7 separate regions of the Homo sapiens genome follow, and regions 2, 3, 4, 5, 6 and 7 are each reported to be linked to region 1. Evidence: microRNA targets listed by miRTarBase, many of them from high-throughput screens and not tested one by one. Region 1 holds a microRNA gene; each other region holds the end of a gene's coding sequence. Distances are between the middles of the regions.
Evidence for each region. Region 1 holds the annotated microRNA hsa-miR-6499-3p (AGCAGUGUUUGUUUUGCCCACA, at 2,457-2,478, shown strand). A microRNA usually pairs through its seed, bases 2 to 8, with sites in the 3' UTR of a target mRNA and lowers its output. Matches are read on the target gene's strand: a 7mer-m8 pairs with bases 2 to 8, a 7mer-A1 pairs with bases 2 to 7 and ends in A, and an 8mer does both.

Region 1 (4,065 bases):
TAAAGGACAGAAATGTATTTCCCACAGTTCTGGAGGCTGGAAGTCCCAGATCGGGGTGCCAGCATGGCCAGGTTCTGGTGAGTGCCCTCTTCTGAATGGCAGACTGTCGGCTTCTCATTGTATCACATGGCCCTTCTCATAAGGGCCCTAATCCCATTCACAAGGGCTCCACCTCCAAATACTGTTACACTGGGGATTAGATTTTAACATATGAATTTTGAGGGGACACAAACATAGAGTCCAAAACAGGCACTAAAAATAATACTTGGTAGTAGCTGATTTACAACAGGTAAAAATCAAGACTGTCCTTGACAAACCAGGGCATCCAATCTTCTAAGTATAAGCCTTGGTAACACTTTTAGATTCTAATCTAAGTACAATGAGAGGTGGTTGGAGGGTTTCAGACGGAAAAGGGATCCTCTTTGTGTCTCAGGAAGCTCATTTTTCAAGCTCTATAGAGTGGGTGAGGGAGACCAGTGAGAAGTCATCCAAGCTGGAGATAGTGGGGCTGAGACCACGGAGTGATGGAGAAGATGCAGGAAGCGGAGAGATTTCGGACATATTTTGTATGTAAATTGATAGGAGTTGGTGGAGTGGATGTGCAGTTAGAAAGAACAGAGACGATTCAGGGGTGATTTCTAAATTGTTGGCTCCCATGAAGACTTCGGTGGTAGTGCATTTATGAGACTGGAAAGGCCCAGACGGGAAGGCAGGACAGGTTTATGGGCTAAACCGAAGCTCTGTTTTGCACATTATTTCCCAGTTGTTTGTGAGACATCCAAGCAGAGGTGTCCAGTGGGTAGCTGGGAATTGGAGTTGGCAGCTCAGAGGATTGGTAGATGGCCCTCAAAGCCAAGAGCATGGATGTGATTGCCTAGGGAGAGATGAGAGAGAATGGCTTCCTGACCTCTGTATTCTCAGACCCAGGCACACGTCCTGCCTAGACAGGAGCTTAGTAATGACTGGCATCATCACCATCAATTGCATTGGTCCCGTACTTCCACTTCCATGCACTGGGAGGCACCATAGGCCAGCAAAGAAAAACACAGGCTATAGACACAGATAGGTATTCAGATTCTGCTCAGGCCTTATCTGCTGCTGTATGACCTTGGGCAAGTTACTTCACCTCTTTGAGCCTCAGTTATATTTTTTGTAGGATGGGTGACTTGATAGTACCTATCTCATAAGAAGGATAAACTAGGATAATGTATTTACAGCATTATCATAGTTTATCTATGATAATGACTAGCATTGTACTCAGTTAATGTTAGCTATGTATTATATATAATCGGTAGTAGTAGTATTGTTGTAACTAATGTTAGCTATACATTATAATTAACAGTAGTGTTAATTATTATTGTTGCTATTAATATCTCTTCGGTGTTATGCATGACTTCCAGCAGTAGGTGTAATCTTATCAACTTTCTTGTACATTAAAAGTGTTGGAGTGCAGGTGAACAAGATATTACTACAGGGAAAATTGTGGAGACCCTCGTTGACAGCTGAGGAAGTGATAACATCACTGAGGAGAAGAAGGCAAGCCTGTCCTTTCTAAGTCAGGCAGGAAGTTGCAGGGATGTGTGGTGAAACATGAAAGGAAAATGCGTTTATGATTTACATTCTTTTCCCTACTTAAGTGAGGTCCTGTCACCCTCACGGCTTTTCACAGTTCTGACATTAACTGCAACCCTGCGCGTGCCAGCCCATCAGTGAGGTCAGGCCTGCTTCCCTGCCCACTTGCTCCAGCACCAGTGACCCCGTCTGTGCTGTTGAACACACCGCCTTCATTCCTACCCCAGGACCTTACACTTGCTGCTCCCTCTGTCTGTCGCCTCTTCTTCTCATCCCTCAGGACTCAAATGTCACTCCACAGAGACTCCTTCTCTTCTACCTGATCAAAGTTAGGTCTCTGTTTATTTCCTTCCCAGCATTTTATCCAAGTTATTTGGTAACTTATTTATTGTCTCTTTTCTCCTGGCCACAGCAGAAGACTTCGTTGACTGACTAGAAGGACAAATCCCGACTCCCACTCCAATCGCATAGCAAAAGGGAATCCCAAGGGGAATTTTCGTAGGCTGAGCAGGGTGCATGGTGCATCAGAATTGCTGAGACATCTGAGGGCGCCCTTGAGGACAGGGACAGAATGAGAAACTTCATGAGGAAGTTAGCCCAAGTCTATGGCTGGAGAGATTTAGGAAGAGGCTCAGAGAGATGTCACATGAGGAAACTGCATTGTTTTACTGCATGGTATAGGATGTAACTCCCTCCTTCAATCTCTACAAAACCTTCAGAAAATCTTTCTTTTCTGTCAGTGCTTTTGGAGTTAGGTTTTTTTTTTCTAAATGCAACAATGCGCTGAGCCAGCCCTCAAGTTGGGCGTGGGGCAGAGAAACGTAGCTCCACAAGGAGGCCCAGCCTCAGTCGGGCGCAAGAGCACTGCAGTTCTGTTGGGTGACAGCAGTGTTTGTTTTGCCCACAGGCGTCAGACAGTGGCATCCCTCCCCTCTCGTCTTTGACGTCTGTCCGTGTCCATGTCACAGAGCAGAGCCACTATGCACCTTCTGCTCTCCCACTGGAGATCTTCATCACTGTTGGAGAGGATGAGTTCCAGGGTGGCATGGTGGGTAAGATCCATGCCACAGACCGAGACCCCCAGGACACGCTGACCTATAGCCTGGCAGAAGAGGAGACCCTGGGCAGGCACTTCTCAGTGGGTGCGCCTGATGGCAAGATTATCGCCGCCCAGGGCCTGCCTCGTGGCCACTACTCGTTCAACGTCACGGTCAGCGATGGGACCTTCACCACGACTGCTGGGGTCCATGTGTACGTGTGGCATGTGGGGCAGGAGGCTCTGCAGCAGGCCATGTGGATGGGCTTCTACCAGCTCACCCCCGAGGAGCTGGTGAGTGACCACTGGCGGAACCTGCAGAGGTTCCTCAGCCATAAGCTGGACATCAAACGGGCTAACATTCACTTGGCCAGCCTCCAGCCTGCAGAGGCCGTGGCTGGTGTGGATGTGCTCCTGGTCTTTGAGGGGCATTCTGGAACCTTCTACGAGTTTCAGGAGCTAGCATCCATCATCACTCACTCAGCCAAGGAGATGGAGCATTCAGTGGGGGTTCAGATGCGGTCAGCTATGCCCATGGTGCCCTGCCAGGGGCCAACCTGCCAGGGTCAAATCTGCCATAACACAGTGCATCTGGACCCCAAGGTTGGGCCCACGTACAGCACCGCCAGGCTCAGCATCCTAACCCCGCGGCACCACCTGCAGAGGAGCTGCTCCTGCAATGGTAAGTACTACATCTTCCCTAGGGACGAGCAGCACTGCTGGGCTCAGCCCGCCTGACTCTAAGCATGGAGATTCCACTGAGGCTCTGTGGGAGAGTTCAGGGAAGTTTTAATAAGCCCAAAGGCCACCAATCACCATAAGACGGCTAGTGGCCTCACAAAATCTAGTTATGGAATAATACCCAATTCTCAGCTCCCTTTCGAGATTTAGAAAATAACAGTAAGACTACAATATGTGGTTTAACATCATGGCTAAGAGCATAGGCTGTGGCTTCAGTCTTCATGGGTTAAAATCCCAGCTCTACCCCTTACTAACCAGGCGACTTTAGGAAAATTAACCTCTCTGTGCCTTTGAGCTGGGCTGCTGTAGGAATTACATCAGTACTATGTATCAAGTGCTTGCTTAGAACAGTGCCTGACATATAGAAAGTGGTCAATACATGTGAGTTACTAATACTGCTACTATTATTACCATAGTCTGGTGGTTATAAGCTCAAGGCTTAGACTCAGACAGCTCAGGTTCAAACCCTAGCTCCATCAGTCACTAGCTGTGTAACTTTGGGTGTATTGTTAAAACCCTCTGAGCTTTTTAGTTTCCCATCTATAAAATAGTCAAAATAAATACATCTGCCTCCTGGAGTTGGGTTCGGGGGGGAAATTACGTAAGAGTTATAAAAGCACTTAACCCATGGCTGGCCCACAATAAGCCCCAGATCAACGGTGACTGTCATTCCCGTGGTAGCAGTTGCTATAGGGAGCCTGCTGTACGCCACACTC
Region 2 (4,065 bases), not on the chromosome of region 1:
GTGAGCCACCACACCTGGCCATCCCATGCTATCTTTTTAAAAACCCTTGGCTTGCTTTATTTTTGTATAAAACTCTATTATGGAAATGTTTTAGAGTAGAGAGAATAGTATTACTATCATAAATGCCCATGTGCCCATTACCAAATTTCAAAATCACCAGCTCATGTTTGTCCCACTATCAAAACTTCACAAGTGAGATGCTCGCTTGGCTTAAGCTGTTAACTGAGCATTCATTGAACTGTGAAGGCAGAGTAAAATCATCATCATATATGAAATCCTGTAAATAGATTGTGAAAGGTTACCTCTAAACTGTAAAGTGTAAATAGAGAATTTGTTATCTCACAGAATAAAATTCCCCATGTAATATGTAAATCTAGAAGGAAACACAAAAGTTAAAAAAATTGCTCACAAAGGGCAGAAGGAAAAAAAGTAAGACTAAAATAAAAATAAAATAAATGTTTAAGATTCACAAATGGTAAATCAGCTGATCCTTAACTTTCTGAAGTCCTGTATCTGTTTCCCCCAAAGAAGAAAAGACTGATCATTCTTTGTTTGTTTTTCAGGAATCCTGGGAGCAGTAATTTACAGAAAATAACCAAGGAGCCAATAATTGACTATTTTGACGTCCAGGACTAAGAAGATCATGATGCACTTAGATAAAAGAATGATTAGGTATAGTGGAGACTTATTTGCCAGCAGATAAATCATGCCCGTTCCCCTCTGCCTGGCAGAATCACAGTCTCACATACTGTCTTGTACTGACACATCCAAAGCATGAGTGTGTCAGAAATCCCTTGTCTATTCCTGTCTGTATAAAGTGTTTCATTATGACCAGATCTCTGATTGTATGGTCACTAGGTATGCAATCACGCATTCAAAGAGGCTCTTTACACCATCACTGTGATTGCTCTGAGAGTTGAGGGACTATTGGGCTTTATTTGGACAAACCAAACTTTTAGCCTGAAACCAACTTTATGCCACTAAGTCATAGCCTCAGTTGTCCCAGTTATTTGTCCTCCTGAAAATGCCTGAAACATCAGACAGACATTGCTTGCTTTACCCAAACTGATCAAAATCTTTAGGAGCACAAATGAATTTTTTAGTCTGAAATACCAAATAATGAATTGGTATACCATATCCGGAATCACACATGTTATCTTAAACCCAGCCATCATACCTAAGTCTTTTGCCAAAACCTCTCATAGGTATATCTAGCTGAACTTATTTTGGCATTTTCAATGTGATCAGTTCTAGACCTAGAAGGGGGTCAGGCTGCTTTACAGAATTCTATTTCCTTAAGTCCCTGGCACTTCTCATACCACATCACTGAACCTGTTCAGTAACAATCAGTTTGGCCGTCCCCCATGATGGTAGGAAATATAGAGAGCAAGTTCTTCTGCCAGGGTCACACTGTGGTCTCTGAACTGACCAGTATATCCCTAACTCCTCTTTGATAGAGAAAGAGTCTCAAATGGACAACTGTCCTGTGTTGCTTTCCCTAGGCCTTCAGCAGCCTATTGGCTCTCCCTGCCTCTGAGCTCTGGACTCTGTTTGAATATTCCAAGTAGTATATGGACAGTCCAGGGCTTATGCCCAGCAGCCCACTGGAGGCATTCTTCAGGCTCCTTTAAGGCAGGTGCATTGATAGTTCCATTAGTGTGACCCTTGCATTGGCACCCCTCCAGCCTGGAGGCCAGGCTTCCAGCAACTTCCTTCTGCCCTAGAGCAAGCCATGAGCCCCAGAGCAGTAGCAGGAGACTTGAGAAGTAGAGTGACAAAAACAAGCACTTAATTAAATTATAAAATTTAACTTTATAGGGCTGCCTTTTGGTGTTTTCATTTTTTTATTTCTTTTCATTTTTTTTCCTCAATCCTCCTCCTCCTGTAGCAGGGCTGTCCTTTGGTCCTTACCCAGTCTGCTTCAAAAGGGATCAGGTACAGCAGCAGGAACAGGTGACTGGAGGGAAGTGACACAAAACAAAACCACCTCTCTCTGGACCCATGTAGTGCAGGTCAGTGGCCCCACACACAACAGGAAGCCCATGAGCATCTGTTACCTCTTTCAAGCAGTGGGTTCAGTGGGTGAATAGTACGTGTGAGAGTATCTCAGAATCAGCAAAAGGCAGGAGACCTGACTTCAGATTCTAGCTGTGCCACATAATTTGCCGCTTGATGCGATGAAAGTTTCACTGACCTCATTAGGGTTATGAAGATTAAAGGAGTAATACACGTGGAGGTACCTGATCCTCAAAGTTCATAAAAATGATACTTAGTATCTAGAAAATATGTACACATCTTCCTCCATAATACTAGCCAAGTAGAAGGTGTGGAATGCTAACCAGGCCTCTTCTGGTGAATATTTGCATGCCTACCCTGTGCCAGCCTTGTGCCAGGGCTGTGGGAAGCAGCCTGGTTTCGTACATTTAGTAATCCAGGGAGGACACACGTGAACAGATGTTCTCAGTGGAATTGGCTAGTCTGCCACCAACAGGTTGTTAATCGGTTATTAAAAGCTGAAGAGTCCTAAGAGGAATATTTTGTGAAGTTGCGGTAGAAATGGGTTAGCTCTGGGGGTCAGAGCAGGACACGTGTGGGAAAGTGAAATGGGAGGAAGCATTTGAGCTGAGGCTTGAGATGGTAGGCTGCCATTTGGAGGAGGAAAGAGGCCCATGCTGAGAGAAGGTAAACAGCAGGAGACAGGGCTGGGGGAATGGTTGAGTAAGGGTTGTCCAGAGCAGGCAGACAACTAGGGGCACAGGTGATGAGGCTGGACAGGTGGACAGGGGTCAGCTCGTGGAGAGCCACAGGGAGTGACAAGAATTCTAAGCAGAGTGGCATGGCCAGATTTAGGATCTAGACCAGGATTCAGCAAATGTTTTGTGAAAAAAGATCAGATAGTAAATATTGTAGACTGTGAGACTTATAGTTTCTGTTGCAGCTATCCAACTCTGCCATCGTAGTGTGAAAGCAGCCGTAGACAATATGCAAATGAAAAGAGTAAGGCTCTGTTCTAATGCTTTATTTGTGCACACCGAAATAATTTCATATGATTTTTATGTCACAAAATATTCTTTTGACTTTTTTCCCCAACGATTTATAAACATAAAAACCATTCTTAGCTCATGAGTTGTGCAAAAACAGGCAGCAGGCTAGATTTGACCAGGGACTTTATTTTACCCACCCTGTTCTGGAGCAGTCCCTCAGGCAGAAGAGTATAGAAGGGATTGGAGGGCTACTTGGAGGCAGGAAGCTCAGCCAGGAAGCTGCAGAAGTGATCCGGGTGAGAGAAAATGAGGGTGATGGGGGTTGGCACTGCAAAGAGGGAAGAGATTCAGATCAGGGAGGTAGGATTGGATGCCAGAGGTTAGCGGGAGAACTAGCCCCCCTCATATCACCAAGGGGAGACCCCCGGTCTCCTCAGCAAGGGGAAGCTGCTGCTTGTAGCTTTGGTGGATTCCTCACTGAGCAGTGGCACTGGACAAGAGTGTACAGGAGCATGAGCTAGACGGGAAGACCCCTGTGCCTCCACCACCCCATGCATGGAGGGAGGGCACCAGGACCCCAAGCTGTTGCTCCCTGAGAATCAGGTGGTAACTTCTCTCCCTGCTCCCATACTCTCTTTCAGCAGGAGAGTTTTTATGGGCTAGAGCTTTCCAGCGACCAAATTCTTCTCTCTGAAATTCCCTCTGGCTTGTTTGGCAGGGCCGGCTGTTCTCAATAGTGTTACCTGCCTGGCATGCAATAGTGGGTGTGTGCGGGACTGTGGAGATGAGAGCAGGCCCTCCTAATTGCAGGTCTGTTGGCCACAGCCCTAGATCCTGTCTTGGAGAGGCCAGAGAAGGTGGCAGGGGAGGAGGAGGAGGAGGAGTGTCAGTCTTGAGGGAGGGGGAAGGGCAAAGACTCGCTCACTGAGTCCTATAGATTAAGGTTTGGGGGAGAATCCCTCCTGTGTAGTGCTGGCCTTCCTTCTTTATGCCTGAAAGCCTGGAGACCTTGTTCCCTAAGGAGAACCTGCTGATGTGCCTCCTCTTCTAAAATCGGGGAGGGACGGCCAGGCCAGCTCCT
Region 3 (4,065 bases), not on the chromosome of region 1:
GGCGGCTCAGAAACATTTATATTTTGGGGTGACACATGATGGTTGCCTCACAACCCTGACCCTCAATAGCGGAGGGATTAGTTCAGCAGGTGGCTAAGACCGTGTCTGTGATGACTTCGCCTTCCTCTTCTCTCACTCTGGGGGTGGGTGAGCCCGCAAGTTCCTCATGGAAAACCAGACTTCAATGGACAGAAATTGAGGGGCAAGTCACAATGCCCTTCTTGACACTGAAGGCGGCCTTGGGTCCAGTCTGCTTTACAAGTTATTTCTAAAACCCAAGTGTGAGGAAGTCTGAGAGCCACAGGTAGATCTTTAGATTGTAAAGTGCAAGGACAAAGGTTAAAAGGTTAGAGCTGAGATGAATTTGGTGATTCCCATCCATATATATATATATATATATATATATATATTTTTTTTTTTTTTTTTTAAATGGAGTCTCTGTCACCCAGGCTGGAGTGCAGTGACACGATCTCGGCTCACCGCAGCCTCTGCCTCCCAGGCTCAAGCGATTCTCCTGCCTCCTGAGTAGCTGGGATTACAGGCGTACGCCACCACGCCTGGCTAATTTTGTATTTTTAGTAGAGTCGGGGTTTTTGCCATCTTGGCCAGGCTGGCCTCGAACTCCTGATCTCAGGTGATCCGCCTGCCTCAGCCTTCCAGAGTTCTGGGATTACAGGCGTGAGCCACTGTGGCCGGCCCCATCCATATTTCTTAAACATGTTAAAGCCCGTTCAAAATTTTTCCATTTCAAATGGTATCAAAGTCCTTGCAAATCTCAATTGAGATACCTCATCAATGATTCAATGAGTACCGGGGGTTAGAGGTATATGAAAAGATGAGAAGCTCACACTGGGCTTCTTCAGTTACAAAACCCCGTTGGGATCACACCCACTCTTCTTCGTGCCCTCTTTATGGTGACATTGGTTTGGGGTGCAGATCTTTAGGTGCTAAAGGGCAACTAGACTTGCCGATGGAGGGGTTTGGGGAAAATTAAGGGCAACCTGCACTGAGTTTTCAAGGCTATATAACTTCAGTAGCAGTTGTATGCCCATATGAAACCATGACCACTAGGAGAGGGGCATGGAATGACAAGTCCTAGTGTGATGGGAGTGGGACATTTGGTTAAGTGTTGGTTCAATGATCTAGACTCAATGAGACACTCTGAAAGCTACAAACTGCATCCACTCTGCCCTACAGCACGAAGGCCACGTTTATTACTGAACTCCTAGCCAGCCTCCAGTGCCCAAGAACGGTCAAGAAGATTCCTTGCTGTTCACAGAGACCAGACAGATGATATCGGTCCCGGAAATGCTTCTTCTCAGAAGCAGTGTCACAGAGGGCTTCCTTCCATCCGTTTTTCTGGAGGGGAAGTGATGGAGAATGCTGAGATGAAGAGGAGAGTGACACACCCAGTGGCTGAGAGTGGCAGGCGCTGCACCTGATGAGAAAGTCCACGTGGGTGGGATCTGGGCCACCTGCTTGGAGAGAGCAGCTGGCCAGTGCCCGTGCCAGACCACTTGTTTAGGCATGGCCTCGCCTGCTGTCTTGGTTCCACCGTGGCCCCGTGAAGGCTGTTATCACACCGCAGTTCTTTACGTTATGGTGGATAAAGCGAGATGCTAACACTCCTGCCTTTCAGTGCTGGGAGCTTTCTACATGGTTTACGGGCACTGCAATGAACAGAATTGAGGTAACTGACCACAAACGACCACCACTTACTATCTAACCCCTGCACCCCTCTCTGGCCAGCCTGGCTATCAGGAAGCATCTCAGTAAGAGGTTTATGAGCAGAGTCCATTTAACCTTCGATAAGAAACGCTCCACAGTTTCCTCTCACAGGGAGAGGGATTGTTTCACAGCAGGGAGTAGGGGGAGCTGGAAATCTGACCATGTCAGTTAATGGGACAGTCAAGGGCTGGTGGTGGGAAGTTCCTGGACTGATGGGGCTGTGCTGACTCTACAGACTTTAAATTCTCTGAGTAAGTGGGGAAGGAGAGGAGAAAATGCAAAACAAAAACATCGAGTCCAGCAACTCTTATCAGGAGATGTGAGTGTCTGCTGGGTTCTGGTGGTAGAGGTGGTCAAAGAACTAGATTTGGGTTAAGTTCCTGCCTAATTATTTATGACTGCTGTTGTCTACGCTACGTCCTTAACAATGCCAATACCTTCATTGATTTGCAGTCTTGGGGTCAGCTTTCTGATTTGCAACATGAAGCTGGCTGAATTCCACGAGGTACATGCAGATGTCAGGAAATGGCCACCCACAAGTAGATACTCAGAGCCCCTCTAAGGGCAATAACAAACAGCAAAAATCCAGAATCATCAAATGGAATCCTACAGGCAAGCGGGTGACTGAGACCCCCAAACTCATGAATTCCATTAGGGAACTTTTCTAGAAAACACACCTTAAGATCGGGGAGGGGAAGGACATGCTATTTACTGCTTCAACTCCAGCAGGTATGTCTCACAGAATCCACTACATCTCTCCCTCACTGAGAAGTGGCCTTTTCAAGGATGGATGACTTGCACACAGTAGGCATTTCATAAATATTCTCTGAATGAAATAACCGAGGAAGGAATGTGTGTAGGAGGAAAAACCTTCATTTATGCTAGAAGAAGGTTCCAGGCAATGCACGAGGCTGAGGTTCAGAGAAGACGAGTCAAGGGCAAAGCTAGCAGGGTGAGTGAGGGATCACAACTTCAGCAGCCACTGGGCTGCAGGAGCTCAGGACACGGGTGCTGGCAAGGCAGGCAGCCTCTTGGAGGTGTTCAGGGGAAACCAGCCCAAGAGCAACGGGCATCTGTTACTGGGGCAAAGCTGCAGGCGGGGACAACAGGGTCTCATATGTCAACTTTGTATGTTCTCTTTTTAATTTTTTGTAGAGACAGGGTCACGCTATGTTGCCCTGGCTGGTGCTCTTTCAACCTCACATGTTCTTCAATTAGAGATATTTGATCTAACACCTCAGTATGATAACGTCAACAGTCTCAAACAGGAGAGACTGGTGGAGAACACCTCACACCATCTTCTTGTTAACTGGCCGAGGAACAGAGTGAGGAAGGCTGCGACAGACAGGCAGGGCTGGATGAAGACTCAGACCTTGGGAGAACGAGTGCTCCCAAGCCATCGTGAGGCCTGCTCACAGCTCCCCGGTACAAAGCATCTCATGTGGAAAGTAAGCAGAAGAGACAGTAAAAAGAAGAGTCGATTTTCTCTTCCCTTCCCCCCTTCTCTTTTTCTAATCTTTTTGAGATTGTTTTTTGCCCTTTTAGGAGAAAGCACCTATTGTGATATTAGAACACTCAGCTCTCTGGTCCATTGGAGGCATCCTCTCAGCCTGTTGAACTCCAAGTCCATTCCTGGTTTCATTCTCATGTCAGAGGACAGGAGGTGAGAGGCTCCTCTGCTCCATGGCTCTCTGTCAGGGCAGAGCCACCAGCTCCCACAGTTCTCCACTGCTGATGACCAGGTGGCAGTTCTTCAGAGAGATTCGACCCTTTATCTACCCTGGACATCAAGAAGGTTAGTGTAGAGACCACATCCAAAGCAGAAAGGCAGAGTAAGATGGCAGATGTAGAAACGGTGCTGGAATCACACTTCTTCAAGTGAGCAAGTTGGGATGAAGTTTGTAGTGTTTGGTGCCAAGAAGGTTCCGGGCACCTGTTCCTCGTAGTTCTCTTTTCTTGGCTCCTGGGTTGACTACCTCAGGCTTCCCCATAAAGCAGGGTCAAGAGGACTCTTCCAGGGCGTTGACCACTTGCTCTAGGATGTCGGGACAATGGTCTGCTATCTGCTGAAGAATGGCGTTGGCAAACTCCTGCAGTTCTGCATTGTCCCGTTCACCTTTCTCTAACTCATCCTGAAGCTGAAAGGGAAAGGAGAGATGGATTTCAGATACAACAATCCCATTTGCACTGAGCTAAGAATTATTTTTCATCAATAAATGACAAAGGCACTCTGTATGTGAAGTCTCTCTGCATCAAAATTAACCATAAGAAAAGTGTAAAAGCAAATATCAAATGCGTCTTCATGAAAGTGAGGCCCAAAAAGTTAGTCACTGGTTC
Region 4 (4,065 bases), not on the chromosome of region 1:
AGGTAAAGGGTTAAGACCCGGGGACATGGAGCTTCCCCACATGATAAGGAGTCTCCCCTGGGCTTTACAGCCAACCCCCACCCTCCAGGGCCTCCAGTAGTCAATGTCTCTATCTTGGTTAGACAAAGTCAAAGGACTGACTCAGTCAAAGGACTGTCTCCTCTAGAGGAAATTCAGGGCTGGCCAGGAGGTACGCCTGGGCCTCTAGGAACCTAACCAGCGTCACCATGAGAGGGGAAGTTAGAAAGGTGTCTGCCACATGCTCAGGTATGCCTGCAGGGAATGAGCTCAAGGTGAATGATTAAATGTCTTTTTTGCTTTTACTCCGAAAGGAAGATCACATGCCACCACCAACCACCACCACCACCACCTCCACACACACACAAAGTTCATTTCCTCCTTAAGGGACAAGAGGCCTAGGTTTACTCCAGTCCTAAGAAGGGCTGCTTTTCCCCTTCCTAAACCACCAGCCCCTGCCCTGGAACAGGTAATAGTCCCTATTTTTCTACCTCACCCCCTGACCCCCAGTAGATATCTGATGACCAGGGAAATGAGTTGAGAGTAGAGGTAGGTCTTCGAGTCTCAGGGACATCCCTGGCCTGCCCAATGTCTGCTGCAGACCTTCGGAAGAGGCCTGGTGGAATCATGGTGACTCAGCTGAACTCCCAAAACTTCCTGGGTGTAAAGGAACCAAAGGCAAGTGAGCTGCAAATAGCAATCTCTGCCTCTCCCCAAATAAATCCTCCCAAGGCTCACACTCAAGATTTGTGAAAGTTCCAACTCCTCCGGCGGGTGAAATGCCACCTCTTAAGTGGTCATCTAGCCTTGGTGGGGGTGCATCTAGCCAAGGAGACCCCACCTTTCCCAAGATGACGACATACCTAATTTTGCATAGCACCTGAGATTGTAACTAAGGTGGTGGGAACCCTTGGTGACTTGCTGTGTTGTGTTGGCCAGTGTTAACACTCACTTCCCCTTAACAGCCCTCCAAACCCAAAAGGCTATGTCAAATCCAGTCCCAGTTCCCAGTTCCTTGTGACTGAGCCCCTCACCCCGCTGGACATTCCTCTCCAAGCAGGCAGTGCTTCCTTATACCCTCCCCACACGGGTAGGTGTTGAGAGGCCAGTACTGAGGTAAATTTCTTTCTTATGGGCAAAATGAGCCCAAGGCACCCCAATAAAAGAACTCACTCAAATCCAAGCCTGCAAGTGTGCCAAGTGCTAGGTCCTCTTTTATCATTTTGGCACCCCAAACACCATCCAAAGGAATGAAGAGCACAGGCTGGACGGGGCGGACTGGAAGGCCCTGAGCCTTGGCTCCCCAGAAGAACCGCAGAGGCCACACAAGTGTCGGCAAGGCTGGGCCCGCTGCTATTCAGCCAACAACTAACACACTGCACAGTCTTTTCAGAAGTAATACAGCAGGAAGTACAGGCTCCTTTGCAGAAAACCTCCACCCCGTCCCCTCTAAGCGCAGCAAACTGCCAGCATCAAGGAAGGGAGCTATAGGCTTAGCTTATAGGGATGAGAGATGCCGCCACCCACAGCCACAGCCCTCTCTCTCCGCCTCCCCCTACCCAGGACTTGCAAGGTATACAAGGGGAGAACCTTACTGGCAAAGTCAAACCAAAACCAAGTAAAACCAGCTCCACCATCAATGTTTCTTGAAAAAACGGGGTTTATTGATTTTTAAACTGCAAATAGTCGTTACAAAAAGTTTTTTTTTCTTTTAAATAAATTCACACAAAGAAAGAGAAATAGAAAGCGACGGTAGTGACCAGCAAGAGGAATAATAATTACATTCATCTTAATGTGTGTGTGCCAGTTCTGTTTACATTAACATTGGAAAACTCCAGACCTGGAATCCAGAACCTCAAATCTGTGAGTGGAATGTCTTGAGATGGGCACGTGGAAGTCAAAGGGTTTCTCTTTTTTTTTTTTTCCCCTTTTAGAAGCTATACATAAAAAGTTGTTTTCCTTCTGTACTGTCACAGAACTTTTACATACATTCTCAGTCCTAGTTGTGAAAGGCCTAAAGAGAAAGAAACTCAATTTGCAGTCCAACACAAAGGGGGGAATTTCTAAAATAAATAATCCAACAGTTTTTTGCATTTTTTTAAATTAATTTTTCATTTTTTTAAAATAAAATAACCAAAAAAGTGTAAAGTTACAAAAAATGTCGTTGAAGAATAATATATTAAAACTGTGGAAAAAAAGGAAAAAGACACGTCACAAAATTTTAAGATTAATATGAAGATCATAATTTAACATAAAAGAATATATTCTATGGATTTGTCATCCCGATAAATATGAACAAAATTAACAAAAAAAAGCATAGTTTGGCAATAAATACGTTTTGATAAGTTAAATAAGCTTTTTTATATTGATGTGCAGTGACAAGCAAAATTTTTGCTCTCCAATTTCTGAAAGTTATATGAAGTTTAAAACCCAGGGAAGAAAGCATGGCGTGAGTGCTCTAAGGATAGACCTACGGTATTCTAGAGCAAAAACCATTAAAGCTACTTCTACAGGAAATCGTTTTACACAGATATTGTATGTGGAATGAATACCATTAACTGCTCACCCCTTACTTTTTTTTTTTTAGCTTTTCTCTCATTTTTTTTTTGTTGTTATTTTTTTTAAAAAGATGTCACATATGAACTGGGGAACTTTAGCACCAAAATCAAGTCTCTCCTAGTCCATCTAGCTTCCCCTTCCTCCCCACTTAAAAAAAAGAAAAAATTAAATCACAAAGTCCCACTTAAGTCAAAATCTTCGTCCGCTTTTTCAGCCTTCCTTCCTGCAGACCTACACAAACCCAGGCAAGATTAGTCAACAGGGGTTCAGATCGGGAAGAAAAAGGTTTTGAATGTCAAGACAGGTTTCCCCCAAAACCCTGGTCTGGCAACAACTCTTCCAAGGGGCAGGGGTGGGGGGGGTGGGGGGGCGGGTACAGGTGGAGAGGTGCCACCGGGAAGAGGGGAGGAGGAATAAGTGTGCGGGAGACTGAAATGAGGGAAGGTGCAGTTGTGTCGCCAGTGGAGGGGGCTGCTGGTTCCGGGTCTCCACCCCGCCATGGGCAGAGGCTCCGGGAGGCCCACGGGTGCCCTCTGGCGCTGAAGAGGTAATGTAGTCACAGTGACAAAGTTAGATTACAAGGCACTAAGTTGCTTCTGTAAACTGTTACTGCTTTTTCTCTTGTGATTTGGCACTTAAGGCTTAAGCCGGAAAAAAAAAGGCATCTACTGACAAAATATGGGACTTGTCTGTTATGCATGGTAAGTGGGCTATAAAATCCAGGGAGGGGGTTTCAAGCCAGAAGAAGCTACTGACAAATTGACTTGTCCTTATGTTAGGTGGGGTTATGAGGGGGAGAGGGAGGGCACATTCTGAGGTGCTGGGGGAAAGGGGTTGAGCTTAACCTTGTTAATGTAGGGCCTGTGGGGAATGGGATGGGTAGGGAGAAGAGGGTATGGGATGTGGGTGCAGGGTAGGGGCTGGAGTAGGCAGGAGGTCCCTCCCTACCCTGGCTTAGTCATCTGAGATGGAAAGTCTGCTGAAGATGGGCAGGCGTCTTGAGTTGTCCAAGGTCGGGGAGTCTGAGCCACTGTGGCTGCTGCTGGAGCTGCTCAGGTAGCCCTCCTGGTCCGAGAGAGAATCCTGAGGGCTGGGGGGAGAGTCAAACATGTGAGGGGACTCGGACATGGGCCGGAAGAGGAAGGTGGTCGGGGAGCCACCCCCGGGCAGCCCCATGCTAGGGGCAAAGAGGCTTGCCAGCTCCTGGCTGGAGAAGGCAAAAGGGTTATTGGTGCCATCGGGCAGGGTAGGTGAGCCCAGGAGGTCATCGGCGCTCAGAATAGGGGGTGGGGTGATGGACGTGGGGCTGTCCAGCAGCCCGGTGGCAGCGGCGGTGGCAGCGGCACTGGGAAACCCAGCAAAGCTAAAGCTATGCTGGAGGCGGGGACGGTCAGCGGAGAGGTCCCGGGCCCCGGCCAGGGCACGGCGCTCTTCAGCGTTGTGGATGAAGTGGCAGCGGGGCCCGTAGGGGCAAAAGCCGATGGTGTG
Region 5 (4,065 bases), 28 Mb from region 1:
CTCCTCTGATTTCAGCGACACAAACAGAAGGATGAGATGTTCTCCACTGCAGGGCTGTCTGTAGGTGTGGGAGGTTAGGAGTTGGTTTTGTCCTATTATGTGTACCCTGAGCAATAGCGAGTAAGCTCTGCTAATGCAGTTCTGAAAATGTTTTTCTTTAGGCAAACTCCAGAGCCAGGAATATTAATTGTAGGAGTTTCTAAAACTTAACATGCAGACCAGGAATTAAGGCAGGTGTGACACAGAGAGGGGGCAGCACTGGGTGTGTCCCTACTACTCACACTCAAGTGCCGCCTCAGGGAGTGCTGGTCTGAGAGGGGGGGGGGTCATAGCCAAGATCCCTGTAGGAGCCAGGCAGAAGCCACCGTTGAAGTGGATGGTGTGGCAGGCAGCAGTGGGGGGGTGGGGGGTGGGGACAGCTGACAGAAACTCCTCATTGTCACATGGCAGCCGTGTGTAAACCAAGGTCCGTGTGCACAACCTGCTGTGGGCCGCCGCTGTGTGTCTTCTCTGCCTTAGGGCAGGGGATGGCGAGCTATGGCCTATGGGCCAAGAGTAGTTCTTATTTTTGTTTATTTATTTATTTATTTTTATTGATCATTCTTGGGTGTTTCTCGCAGAGGGGGATTTGGCAGGGTCATAGGACAATAGTGGAGGGAAGGTCAGCAGATAAACAAGTGAACAAAGGTCTCTGGTTTTCCTAGGCAGAGGACCCTGCGGCCTTCCGCAGCGTTTGTGTCCCTGGGTACTTGAGATTAGGGAGTGGTGATGACTCTTAAGGAGCATGCTGCCTTCAAGCATCTGTTTAACAAAGCACATCTTGCACCGCCCTTAATCCATTTAACCCTGAGTGGACACAGCACATGTTTCAGAGAGCACGGGGTTGGGGGTAAGGTCACAGATCAACAGGATAAGAATTTTTCTTAGTACAGAACAAAATGAAAAGTCTCCCATGTCTACTTCTTTCCACACAGACACGGCAACCATCCGATTTCTCAATCTTTTCCCCACCTTTCCCCGCTTTCTATTCCACAAAGCCGCCATTGTCATCATGGCCCGTTCTCAATGAGCTGTTGGGTACACCTCCCAGACGGGGTGGTGGCCGGGCAGAGGGGCTCCTCACTTCCCAGTAGGGGCGGCCGGGCAGAGGCGCCCCTCACATCCCGGACGGGGTGGCTGCCGGGCGGAGGGTCTCCTCACTTCTCAGACGGGGCGGCCGGGCAGAGACGCTCCTCACCTCCCGGATGGGGTCGCGGCCAGGCAGAGGCGCTCCTCACATCCCAGACAGGGCGGCGGGGCAGAGGCGCTCCCCACATCTCAGACGATGGGTGGCCGGGCAGAGACGCTCCTCACTTTCCAGACTGGGCAGCCAGGCAGAGGGGCTCCTCACATTCCAGACGATGGGCGGCCAGGCAGAGACGCTCCTCACTTCCCAGACGGGGTGGCGGCCGGGCAGAGGCTGCAATCTCGGCACTTTGGGAGGCTAAGGCAGGCAGCTGGGAGGTGGAGGTTGTAGCGAGCCGAGATCACGCCACTGCACTCCAGCCTGGGCACCATTGAGCACTGAGTGAACCAGACTCCGTCTGCAATCCCGGCACCTCGGGAGGCCGAGGCTGGCGGATCACTCGTGGTTAGGAGCTGGAGACCAGCCCGGCCAACACAGCGAAACCCCGTCTCCACCAAAAAAACACGAAAACCAGTCAGTCGTGGCGGCGCGCACCTGCAATCGCAGGCACTCGGCAGGCTGAGGCAAGAGAATCAGGCAGGGAGGTTGCAGTGAGCCGAGATGGCAGCAGTACAGTCCAGCTTTGGCTCGGCATCAGAGGGAGACCGTGGAGAAAGAGGGAGAGGGAAAGCTATATCATTCTTATGTCTTTGCATCATCATAGCTTAGCATCTACTCATAAGTGAGAACATATGATATTTGGTATCCATTCCTGAATTACTTTACTTAGGATAATGGCCTCCAGCTCCGTCCAAGTTGCTGCAAAAGGTATTATTTCGTTCCTTTTTGTGGCTGAGTAGTATTCCATGGTGTATATATACCACATTTTCTTTATCCACTCATTGCTTGATGGGCAGTTAGGTTGGTTCCACATCTTTGCAATTGTGAGTTGTGCTGCTCCAGATATCATCTTTAACTCCTTTGCCTTCTCCACATACATTTCCAAGTCCTGTTCATTCTACCTCCAAAATGTATCTTGTATCCATTCATCTCTCTCCATCTTCAATCTATTTCAATGCCCCATCATCTCTTGCATGGAGGAGTGTAATAATTGGCTAACTGGCCTGTTCTTACATTTTAAAATCAAAAGATGTGACAGGTGAAATGCCTATTTCAGTGTCCATTGATGGTTCTGCTTACACACCACCTGGCTGCCTGGTGTCGCAGTGGCAGAGTTGAGCAGTGTGAAAAAGACTGCTTGGCCCTTTACAGGGAAAGCAGGTCCACTGTGGCCTGTGAGGACGAGAGCTCTGGGCAGGCTCGGACACTGGCAGACCCTGGTCCTGGCTGGCCAAGGCAGCAGGGTATGTGTTTCGGGTCACTCACAGGGCTCAGCACCACTCCTCATGGCTTCCTTACTGTTTCGGCAGAGGCTGACCCGCGGCTGATTGAGTCCCTCTCCCAGATGCTGTCCATGGGCTTCTCTGATGAAGGCGGCTGGCTCACCAGGCTCCTGCAGACCAAGAACTATGACATCGGAGCGGCTCTGGACACCATCCAGTATTCAAAGCATCCCCCGCCGTTGTGACCACTTTTGCCCACCTCTTCTGCGTGCCCCTCTTCTGTCTCATAGTTGTGTTAAGCTTGCGTAGAATTGCAGGTCTCTGTACGGGCCAGTTTCTCTGCCTTCTTCCAGGATCAGGGGTTAGGGTGCAAGAAGCCATTTAGGGCAGCAAAACAAGTGACATGAAGGGAGGGTCCCTGTGTGTGTGTGTGCTGATGTTTCCTGGGTGCCCTGGCTCCTTGCAGCAGGGCTGGGCCTGCGAGACCCAAGGCTCACTGCAGCGCGCTCCTGACCCCTCCCTGCAGGGGCTACGTTAGCAGCCCAGCACATAGCTTGCCTAATGGCTTTCACTTTCTCTTTTGTTTTAAATGACTCATAGGTCCCTGACATTTAGTTGATTATTTTCTGCTACAGACCTGGTACACTCTGATTTTAGATAAAGTAAGCCTAGGTGTTGTCAGCAGGCAGGCTGGGGAGGCCAGTGTTGTGGGCTTCCTGCTGGGACTGAGAAGGCTCACGAAGGGCATCCGCAATGTTGGTTTCACTGAGAGCTGCCTCCTGGTCTCTTCACCACTGTAGTTCTCTCATTTCCAAACCATCAGCTGCTTTTAAAATAAGATCTCTTTGTAGCCATCCTGTTAAATTTGTAAACAATCTAATTAAATGGCATCAGCACTTTAACCAATGACGTTTGCATAGAGAGAAATGATTGACAGTAAGTTTATTGTTAATGGTTCTTACAGAGTATCTTTAAAAGTGCCTTAGGGGAACCCTGTCCCTCCTAACAAGTGTATCTCGATTAATAACCTGCCAGTCCCAGATCACACATCATCATCGAAGTCTTCCCCAGTTATAAAGAGGTCACATAGTCGTGTGGGTCGAGGATTCTGTGCCTCCAGGACCAGGGGCCCACCCTCTGCCCAGGGAGTCCTTGCGTCCCATGAGGTCTTCCCGCAAGGCCTCTCAGACCCAGATGTGACGGGGTGTGTGGCCCGAGGAAGCTGGACAGCGGCAGTGGGCCTGCTGAGGCCTTCTCTTGAGGCCTGTGCTCTGGGGGTCCCTTGCTTAGCCTGTGCTGGACCAGCTGGCCTGGGGTCCCTCTGAAGAGACCTTGGCTGCTCACTGTCCACATGTGAACTTTTTCTAGGTGGCAGGACAAATTGCGCCCATTTAGAGGATGTGGCTGTAACCTGCTGGATGGGACTCCATAGCTCCTTCCCAGGACCCCTCAGCTCCCCGGCACTGCAGTCTGCAGAGTTCTCCTGGAGGCAGGGGCTGCTGCCTTGTTTCACCTTCCATGTCAGGCCAGCCTGTCCCTGAAAGAGAAGATGGCCAT
Region 6 (4,065 bases), not on the chromosome of region 1:
CCTGCAGGCCTTGGAAGTGCTGAAAATCGCTGCGGGTCTGGGCCCCTCTTACAGTGGCAGCTTGTTGCTCTTTGATGCCCTGAGAGGGCATTTCCGCTCTATTCGGCTGCGGAGCCGCAGGCTCGACTGTGCAGCTTGCGGGGAACGGCCCACTGTGACTGATCTGCTGGACTATGAAGCCTTCTGTGGCTCCTCAGCCACTGATAAATGCCGCTCCCTGCAACTACTGAGCCCAGAGGAGCGTGTTTCTGTCACCGACTATAAGCGACTGCTGGATTCTGGGGCATTCCACCTGTTGCTGGACGTCAGGCCTCAGGTGGAGGTGGACATTTGTCGTTTGCCTCATGCCCTACACATCCCTCTGAAACATTTGGAACGCAGGGATGCGGAGAGCCTGAAACTCTTAAAAGAAGCAATCTGGGAAGAGAAGCAGGGCACACAAGAAGGGGCTGCTGTCCCCATTTATGTGATTTGCAAACTGGGAAATGACTCACAGAAAGCCGTGAAGATCCTCCAGTCCTTATCAGCAGCTCAAGAGTTAGACCCTTTAACAGTTCGGGATGTTGTGGGGGGCCTCATGGCCTGGGCTGCCAAAATCGATGGAACATTTCCACAGTACTGAGGTGACTGGTATAGTCTGATGAGAAAGATGTGGATTGCCATAATACCTCAAAGATACACTTGTTTGCATTTTTCGGTAATATACATAGGAGCTGGGGATTCTACAGTATCTGTGAATACGTGGACTCCTTTTTATAAGGAGTTTTAAAAATTGTTATGTATTGGATGAATGACTTATTAATGGATTATACCGTTTCTGAGAACCATCATTTTTTTTTTCAGCACACGGAGGATGTCTTGGACATGTGAGATGTAACGTGACAGGATTTTGCATTTTAAACTGCAGATCATTTACATGTCCTTATTTTCCACCTCCCCCAGTCAAAATGCTTTCTAAATCATTTTCACAGATTATATACTTCGGATCTGTTTACTGTTCAGTTAAGAAATTCTTGGATCTTATTAATATTTCAGATGATAGAATACATCCTACAGAAATACATGTTTAAAATGTAAATTGTTTTAATTATTCAGAAAGAGGGTCATTCTATTTGGCCTTTTGAATTAGTATCAAAATGAGATTTTTTTTTTTTTTTTGAGATGGAATCTCTCTCTGTTGCCCAGGCTGGAGTGTAGTGGTGCGATCTCAGCTCACTGCAACCTCCGCCTCCCAGGTTCAAGCGATTCTCCTGCCTCAGCCTCCTGAGTAGCTGGGATTACAGGCGCACGCCACCACGCCTGGCTAATTTTTGTATTTTTAGTACAGAGGGGGTTTCACCATGTTTGTCAGGCTGGTCTCGAACTCCTGACCTCGTGATCCGCCTGCCTCGACTTCCCAGAGTGCTGGGATTACAGGCGTGAGCCACCACACCCTCCCGAGATCTTTAAAGTTTACCAAAATAAAGGAAACCACCTTTGTAGTCTGTCAGTGTCTCTTATAAATTGCTACTGTTTTCTTAAAGTTAACTTCAGGGTCCACCTTATGTTGCACACATATCACATCGTTTAAATTGCATACTATGGTTTGACTTGCTTTGGAATTTTCAAGTCAAAGTCCCAACCCTTTGCCTCTCCCCCTTTAATTTGCCTTTTCTCTTTTGATTTAATGTTTTTTTATTCCAGCATTTTATACTAATGTAAAATGTTTTTATGTTTGTTTACTTAACATTTTCATAAAATAGTAGGTAGTCTCACCAACTTCCAATATATACAACAACATTATAAGTAAAAATTTGATTTGTGAGTGCCTATCAGTGGCCAGATGAACTAATGGCTTGTCAGAAGGGGGCCTGTGACCTCCTGCTTGCTGCATGCAGGCTTATAATCATCAATTGCTGCTGTTGTTTTTTTAAGAATGGCAGAAATCACAGATACAACTATAAAATCTTTGTATTTCTGTTAACCATTTTTTTTAAAGCTTAAATGTATCATAAGCCAGCAAAAACCCTTTGTAGACCAGATTTACTTACCAGTTTGCAATTTGTGATATAGAATCTTGTTTTATTATAAGAGGGTGGTATTTAACAAATTCAAAATTAGTCATCACTTTTTAACTGTGAAACATTGTAACTAATTCTTTGAACAGGTATACTTAAAGTATGGTATACCCTTCTGTTATAAAGATGAAGCAGGTCTCTTATGACTGTTCCTGCCAACGAGTTATGGAGGTAAATGACTGTGACCTGGAGTGGAGAACAAAGATGGCTGGCCTGTGTTTTTCATCTCCTTCTTCCAGGGACAACTGATTCTGATACATAGCAGGAAACAAATAGCGACACACAGGAACAATTTCATATTCTAAAGACTGAAGTCCTAAAGTTATAGACAGTTGTAGTTCCTATAAACCTGGTTGTCACAGGGGACAGGCAAGAGAAGCTGACTAGCTAAGTGTTAAAAGGTTTACTAAAGTGATAGGAGGTGCTTTTGAGAATTTTGGGGACAGATTCAAGGCTGTACTTCTAGGAATGATGCCCGAAATCATGCACAAAACTGGCCTTAGGAGAACAGTGTCTATGTTGTGCTGCCCTATCAAGTACCGGAGGAAACGCCACTACAGTCTCACCAGTTTCACTTGACGTGCCCCCCCAACTCTCCCAGAAAGCCCAACACTTCAGCCACAGTCCATGTGTCGAGAAACAGAGTCACTACATTATTCTTTTCTGAGTCAAGCCTTATGAGGGTGCCTGGTAGGCAGAGTCTAATTACATGCCTACATCTTAGCTGCAAGAGAGGCTGGGAATTTGTGTTTTGATATCTACAATAGGAAGACAGAACTCATGATGTGGGATTTTCCCAAATAGTGAAATATTTTTCAAAAGATGGGCTGTTAAGAATATAACAGATACCCAGTACACAACCCAGATCTATTTCAGTATTTGTTTTTTGTTGTTGTTGTTTTGGAGACAGAGTCTCGCTCTATCCCCCAGGCTGGATGGAGTGCAGCGGCACAATCTCGGCTCACTGCAACCTCCACCTCCCATGTTCAAGTGATTCTCATGCCTCAGCCTCCTGAGTAGCTGGGATTACAGGCACCTGCCACCACATCTGGCTAATTTTTCTATTTTTAGTAGCGATGGGGTTTCGCCATGTTGGCCTGGCTGGTCTTGAACTCCTGACCTCAGGTGATCTGTGCACCTCAGCCTCCCAAAGTGCTAGGATTACAGGCATGAGTCACTGCACCTGGCATATATTAGTATTTGAAATTTGGTTTTCTCTGGGGATTGTAGCTAGGTTTTTATGGTGAGATAGGATTTGAACATAATTTGTTTTTTGAGACGAAGTCTTGCTTCGTCGCCCAGGGTGGAGTGTAGTGTTGTGATCACAGCTCGCTGTGGCCTCAACCTCCTGGGTTCAAGTGATCCTCCCACCTCAGCCTCTCAAGTAGCTTGAATTACAGTTGTATGCCACCATGCCTAGCCATTTTTTAATTTAAAAATTTTTTGGTAGCAATGGGGTCTGAATATGTGGCCTAGGCTGATCTCAAACTCCTGGGCTCAAGCATCCCTCCTGCCTCAGCCTCCCAAAGTGCTTGGGATTACGGGTATGAGGCACCATGCCCAGCCTGAACTTGATTTTTTTGTTGTTTCCTTTTCATAACAAACATCAAATGCCTTCAGTGTACTAGTTCTTCTAGGTTCTGGAATAAAAATGAGCAAGAGGTTTCCTGTTGTAGAGGAGTTTATATTTAAATGGTGATAAGTAAATTACTGATAAGTGCCATAAAAGAAATGAAACTGTGACATATTAGGGTGGGGGAGGGGATCTGTTTTGAATAGCTTAATTATGGAAGGCCTCAGAGATGACATTAAACCCAAAACCTGAAAGGTGAGAAAGAGCCAGTTACAGAAGATCTGAGGAAAATTCTATACTGGGAGAAAAATAACTGTAAAGACCTCAAGGTAAATAAACTTGGAATGTTCCGTTCAAGAAACTGCAGAGGCAAGTTGGGTTGCAAACAATTAGGGAGAGTGGGACAGGGTGAGGTTTGAGAAGCAGGGAACATCA
Region 7 (4,065 bases), not on the chromosome of region 1:
AGGGAGGATGCCCCGTTGAGAATGGAGTGGTACCGAGTGCTCTCGGCACGATGCCAGGGGCCTGGCCACCCGCTCCCAGGTCAGAGGCCAGCCCCAGTCAGGGGCTTGGTCAGGCCTGATCAGCCAAGAGGCGGCCCCCCACCAGGAAGACGGGCTTCCCATGGGGCTGACAAGCCGTACACCTGCCCCGAATGTGGCAAAGGCTTCAGCAAGACGTCCCACTTGACCAAGCACCAGCGCACACACACGGGCGAGCGGCCTTACAAGTGCCTAGTCTGTGGGAAGGGCTTTAGCGACCGCTCCAACTTCAGCACGCACCAGAGGGTGCACACAGGCGAGAAGCCCTACCCGTGCCCCGAGTGTGGGAAGCGCTTCAGCCAGAGCTCCAGCCTGGTCATCCACCGCAGGACACACAGCGGGGAGCGGCCCTATGCCTGCACCCAGTGCGGGAAGCGCTTCAACAACAGCTCGCACTTCAGCGCCCACCGCCGGACGCACACAGGTGAGAAGCCCTACACCTGCCCGGCCTGTGGCCGGGGCTTCCGCCGGGGCACCGACCTGCACAAGCACCAGCGGACCCACATGGGGGCAGGCTCCTTGCCGACGCTCCAGCCGGTGGCTCCTGGAGGCCCCGGTGCCAAAGCCTGATCACCAGGCCTGAAACTCCCTTTCCAGGACTCTCATCCCTGGGCACAGAATTCAGGAAACTGCTAGACAGCCTGGTCCGAAAGCATTGCCAGCTGCCCGTTTCCTCCCATGGCCCAGTATGAGGCCAGCAGGGGACATTTGGGATGCCCAGGCCGCAGAGGAAGCTGGGCACTGGGTGCAGAACAAGGGCAAGGACAGGCTCTGAGTGTCCAGTGGCAGCCAGAACAGGTGACACAGAGCAGGGGCTTCAGCCACAGAGACACACTCAGGAGGCCAGAAGCCGACACTCAAGGTGTTCGTGGGGCTGGCTCCTGAAGGGCCTGGGAGGGTCCATCAGCTGCCTCCAGCATCCAGTGGCTGCTGGCATACAGCCTCATCCCCACGTCCCAACCCCTCTCCTGTGTGTCTGTGACCCTGTGCGCTGTCTCTGTGTGTACCCCCCACCTGCTCCCCCCCCCTTTTTTTTTTGAGACGGGGCCTTGCTGTGTCCCCCAGGCGGGAATACAGTGCCATGATCATAGCTCACTGCAGCCTCGAATCCCTGGGCTCAAGTGTTCCTCCTGCCTCATCCTCCTGAGTAGCTGGGGTTACAGGTGTGTGCCGCCATGCCCAGTCTCTTTTTTGGTAGGGCCACCACTCACTGGGTTTAGGGTCCCCCAATACACTGTGACCTCATCTTAACTAATTATATCATCAAAACCCGTGTTTCCAAATAAGGTCACATTCTGAGGTCTGGGTGCACATGAATTTGAGGGACCCCTCGTCTGCTGCAGGGAGCCCTGCTGTACCCCAGCCTTCCCAGGACGTGGTCTCCAGCTTCTTCATCCTGCCAGAGTTTCCAAATGGAGCCCGGGGCTCTGCAGCATTCCAGTCCCCTTTGCAGATCCATAGCTGCTCTGCAGGGCGGAAGACACCTGGGGCGGGAAAGCACCCCTGAGTTCCATCTTCCTGACATGTTGCCTGGGATGTGACGGGCCTGACATCTCCCCAGGGCCGGGGCCCAGGGCTGCGTTTGCTCCTGGCCCCTTAGTGTCTGGAATGTGGCCTTCCACGGTTGCCCCACTTTGTCTTTCTAAGGTAAGAAGCCTTCACCTTCCAGCTTTTGTCTGGCCTGTGCTGCGTGGGAGCCACTGGTCTGTGCACATCCACGGTGGGTGAGTGGCCAAGACAAGCAGTGTGATAGAGTCCTTGGTGGGTTTAGTCATCTCGGAAGTCGTAGGGCAGCTATGGAAACCACTGGGTTCTGGAACGTTCCAGCCAGGCAGTGGTTGTTCCTCATAGGTAGGTGGCCTTGGCCTTCATCCCAGCCTGGGATGCTCCATTGCATTTGTCACCTAGTCACTGTATATACGTGCACATTTGACCTTTTGGCACAGCCCAGGTTCCAGGTGCGTGACCTGCCCTTTTTCTCATTCCCTTAACTGACATTATTTAGTGTCAGAGGCCGAGCACAGTGGCTCCCACCTATAATCCTAGCACTTTGGGAGGCCAACGCGGGTGGATTGCTTGAGCCCAGGAGTTCAAGAGCAGCCTGGGCAATATAGAAAGACCTCTTCCCTACCAAAAAAAAAAAAAAAAAAAAAAAGCCAGGTGCAGTGGCTCACGCTTGTAATCCCAGCACTTTGGGAGGCCGAGGCAGGTGGATCACAAGGTCAGGAGATCGAGACCATCCTGGCCAACATGGTGAAACCCCATCTCTACTAAAAACACAAAAATTAGCTAGGCATGGTGGCGTGGCACGTGCCTGTAGTCCCAGCTACTCGGGAAGCTGAGGCAAGAGAATCACTTGAACCAGGGAGGCGGAGGTTGCAGTGAGCCGAGGTCGCACCGTTGTACTCCAGCCTGGTGATAGAACGAGACTCCACACAAAAAAAAAAAAAATTAGCCAGGCATGATGGGGTGTGCCTGTAGTCCCAGCTACTTGAGAGGCTGAGGCTGGAGGATCACTTGAGCCCAGGAAGTTGAGGCTGCAGTGAGCTGTGATTGTGCCACTGCACTCATCCTGGAAGACAGAGTGAGATCCTGTCTCAGATAAAATAAACAATTTTTTTTTTAAGTCATTGCTTCTGGCCCCTGTGTGCTCTGTCCTGTGTCTGCAGAATGGGGCTGCCTGGTTGAGGGACGGCTTTTACCTTCTAGACTAGCTCTGGGATCTCTCATGGGGCATGAGGTACCCAGCTAGATGTGGCCAGGCCACACTCCAGGAGCTAGCAAAGCACCCAGCGTTGCTGACACCCATCTCCCCAGCGCAGCCTGAGCCCCCAGGCCCCTCTCTCATATCCAGGCCTGTGCTGGAGGTGGCGGCCTCTGGGGGAGTGTGGTTGGGGTCTGCCCACTTCCCTCCCCCTGCCGAGGCTGTGGCCTCCCACTGGCTGCTGCTTGGCCCCATCTCATGGTCGCTGCCTGCTGCTTGGCCCCATCTCATGGGCGTCATCCTCAGCACTCACGTGATGGGAGAGTTTTGTAGGAGCTGTGAGTCCCAGGTGCCTGCGTGTGCTGTGATGTTATCTCATGCAGTCCAGTGAGGGGGGACTCCCATTAGTCTCCTTTTTTTGTTTTGTTTTGAGACACAGTCTCACTTCATTACCCAGGCTGGAGTGCAAGGCACGATCTTGGCTCACCACAACCTCCACCTCCCAGGTTCAAGTGATTCTCCTGCCTCAGCCTCCTGAGTAGCTGGGATTACAGGTGCGCACCACTACGCCTGGCTAATTTTTGTATTTTTAGTAGAGATGGGGTTTCTCCATGTTGGTCAGGCTGGTCTTGAACTCCCGACCTTGTGATCCACCCACCTCGGCCTCCCAAAGTGCTGGGATTACAGGCGTGAGCCACCGCGCCCGGCCATGATTCTCCTTCTGTGGGTGGAGGAACTGGGCACTGGGAGCGTGAAAACCTTGCCCAGGTGGCAGAGCCAGCTTTGGACGCAGGTCTGACTTCCTACCTCACTCCCCTTGCCTTGACAGACACAGTAATTCAGAGTTGAACTTGGAACAGAGTTTATTTTCCATCACTGTAAAACATTCTCAGTGAGGTTACTGGCATTAAAAAGGTGGGAGAAATGGAAGAAAATGGGGTTGAAGAAAAAAAAAGCCTTTGCTCTTGACAGCTAGGCAGCCACAGCGGAGGCCGCCAGGCTGCGAGGGCAGCGTATGGGGGCAGAGCCCGGTTCTGGCGGCACAGGCCCCGGAGTGGAGGGGGCAGGGGAGGGTCTCTGTAGGTGGGAGAGGGCCTGGGGGCTGGGAGGCAGCCTGGCCTTGTGCCCTACAGGAGGGACCTCCTGGGACTTTATGGAAGCCTGTCTTGCCTTTGACTTGCAATGAAAATGCCCCTCATCATTGGGAGTGGGGTCGGGTGGGGGTCCCCAGTGGCCAGATCACGTGGGGTCCAGAGAGCAGACATCTGTAGCCCTGATCTTGG

Region 2: miRTarBase lists NFX1 as a target of hsa-miR-6499-3p. The part of its 3' UTR that is shown has no 7-base or 8-base seed match.
Region 3: the mRNA of ERC1 is a reported target of hsa-miR-6499-3p. Seed matches in the 3' UTR shown: 7mer-m8 at 1,325-1,331 and 7mer-A1 at 457-463.
Region 4: miRTarBase lists ZFP36L1 as a target of hsa-miR-6499-3p. Seed matches in the 3' UTR shown: 7mer-A1 at 2,390-2,396.
Region 5: miRTarBase lists MRNIP as a target of hsa-miR-6499-3p. The part of its 3' UTR that is shown has no 7-base or 8-base seed match.
Region 6: miRTarBase lists MOCS3 as a target of hsa-miR-6499-3p. Seed matches in the 3' UTR shown: 7mer-A1 at 1,214-1,220, 7mer-A1 at 3,020-3,026 and 7mer-A1 at 3,233-3,239.
Region 7: the mRNA of ZNF500 is a reported target of hsa-miR-6499-3p. Seed matches in the 3' UTR shown: 7mer-A1 at 1,172-1,178 and 7mer-A1 at 2,638-2,644.

The regions. Positions count from the first base shown.
Region 1 is chr5:151,520,501-151,524,565 of GRCh38, reverse strand. MIR6499 (microRNA 6499) reads left to right here and starts at 2,418; the gene lies at 2,418-2,479. It overlaps FAT2 (FAT atypical cadherin 2), which reads left to right. Exons shown (of 24, transcript NM_001447.3): 19 at 2,480-3,290. It also overlaps a transcript of SLC36A1 not described here. RefSeq lists an enhancer at 2,413-2,582.
Region 2 is chr9:33,369,343-33,373,407 of GRCh38, forward strand. It overlaps NFX1 (nuclear transcription factor, X-box binding 1), which reads left to right. Exons shown (of 24, transcript NM_002504.6): 24 at 564-1,815. The coding sequence ends at 636. Among named protein-coding and RNA genes, the nearest start is that of AQP7, 31 kb to the right of the region's middle. RefSeq lists an enhancer at 3,278-3,778.
Region 3 is chr12:1,489,894-1,493,958 of GRCh38, reverse strand. ERC1 (ELKS/RAB6-interacting/CAST family member 1) reads right to left here. Exons shown (of 19, transcript NM_178040.4): 19 at 1-3,866. The coding sequence ends at 3,729. Among named protein-coding and RNA genes, the nearest start is that of LINC00942, 8.6 kb to the left of the region's middle. RefSeq lists an enhancer at 4,000-4,065.
Region 4 is chr14:68,786,002-68,790,066 of GRCh38, forward strand. It overlaps ZFP36L1 (ZFP36 ring finger protein like 1), which reads right to left. Exons shown (of 2, transcript NM_004926.4): 2 at 1,661-4,065. The coding sequence ends at 3,532. Among named protein-coding and RNA genes, the nearest start is that of ZFP36L1, 5.0 kb to the right of the region's middle. RefSeq lists silencers at 115-184, 205-254 and enhancers at 531-825, 1,115-1,294, 3,727-3,786, 3,797-3,876, 3,984-4,065.
Region 5 is chr5:179,833,841-179,837,905 of GRCh38, forward strand. It overlaps MRNIP (MRN complex interacting protein), which reads right to left. Exons shown (of 7, transcript NM_016175.4): 7 at 3,436-4,045. The coding sequence ends at 3,551. SQSTM1 (sequestosome 1) reads left to right here. Exons shown (of 8, transcript NM_003900.5): 8 at 2,596-4,065. The coding sequence ends at 2,753. Among named protein-coding and RNA genes, the nearest start is that of SQSTM1, 15 kb to the left of the region's middle. RefSeq lists enhancers at 2,929-3,223, 3,005-3,154.
Region 6 is chr20:50,959,604-50,963,668 of GRCh38, forward strand. It overlaps MOCS3 (molybdenum cofactor synthesis 3), which reads left to right. Exons shown (of 1, transcript NM_014484.5): 1 at 1-4,065. The coding sequence ends at 622. Among named protein-coding and RNA genes, the nearest start is that of MOCS3, 2.8 kb to the left of the region's middle.
Region 7 is chr16:4,748,959-4,753,023 of GRCh38, reverse strand. It overlaps ZNF500 (zinc finger protein 500), which reads left to right. Exons shown (of 6, transcript NM_021646.4): 6 at 1-4,065. The coding sequence ends at 648. DNAAF8 (dynein axonemal assembly factor 8) reads right to left here. Exons shown (of 10, transcript NM_139170.3): 10 at 3,628-4,065. Among named protein-coding and RNA genes, the nearest start is that of ZNF500, 16 kb to the left of the region's middle.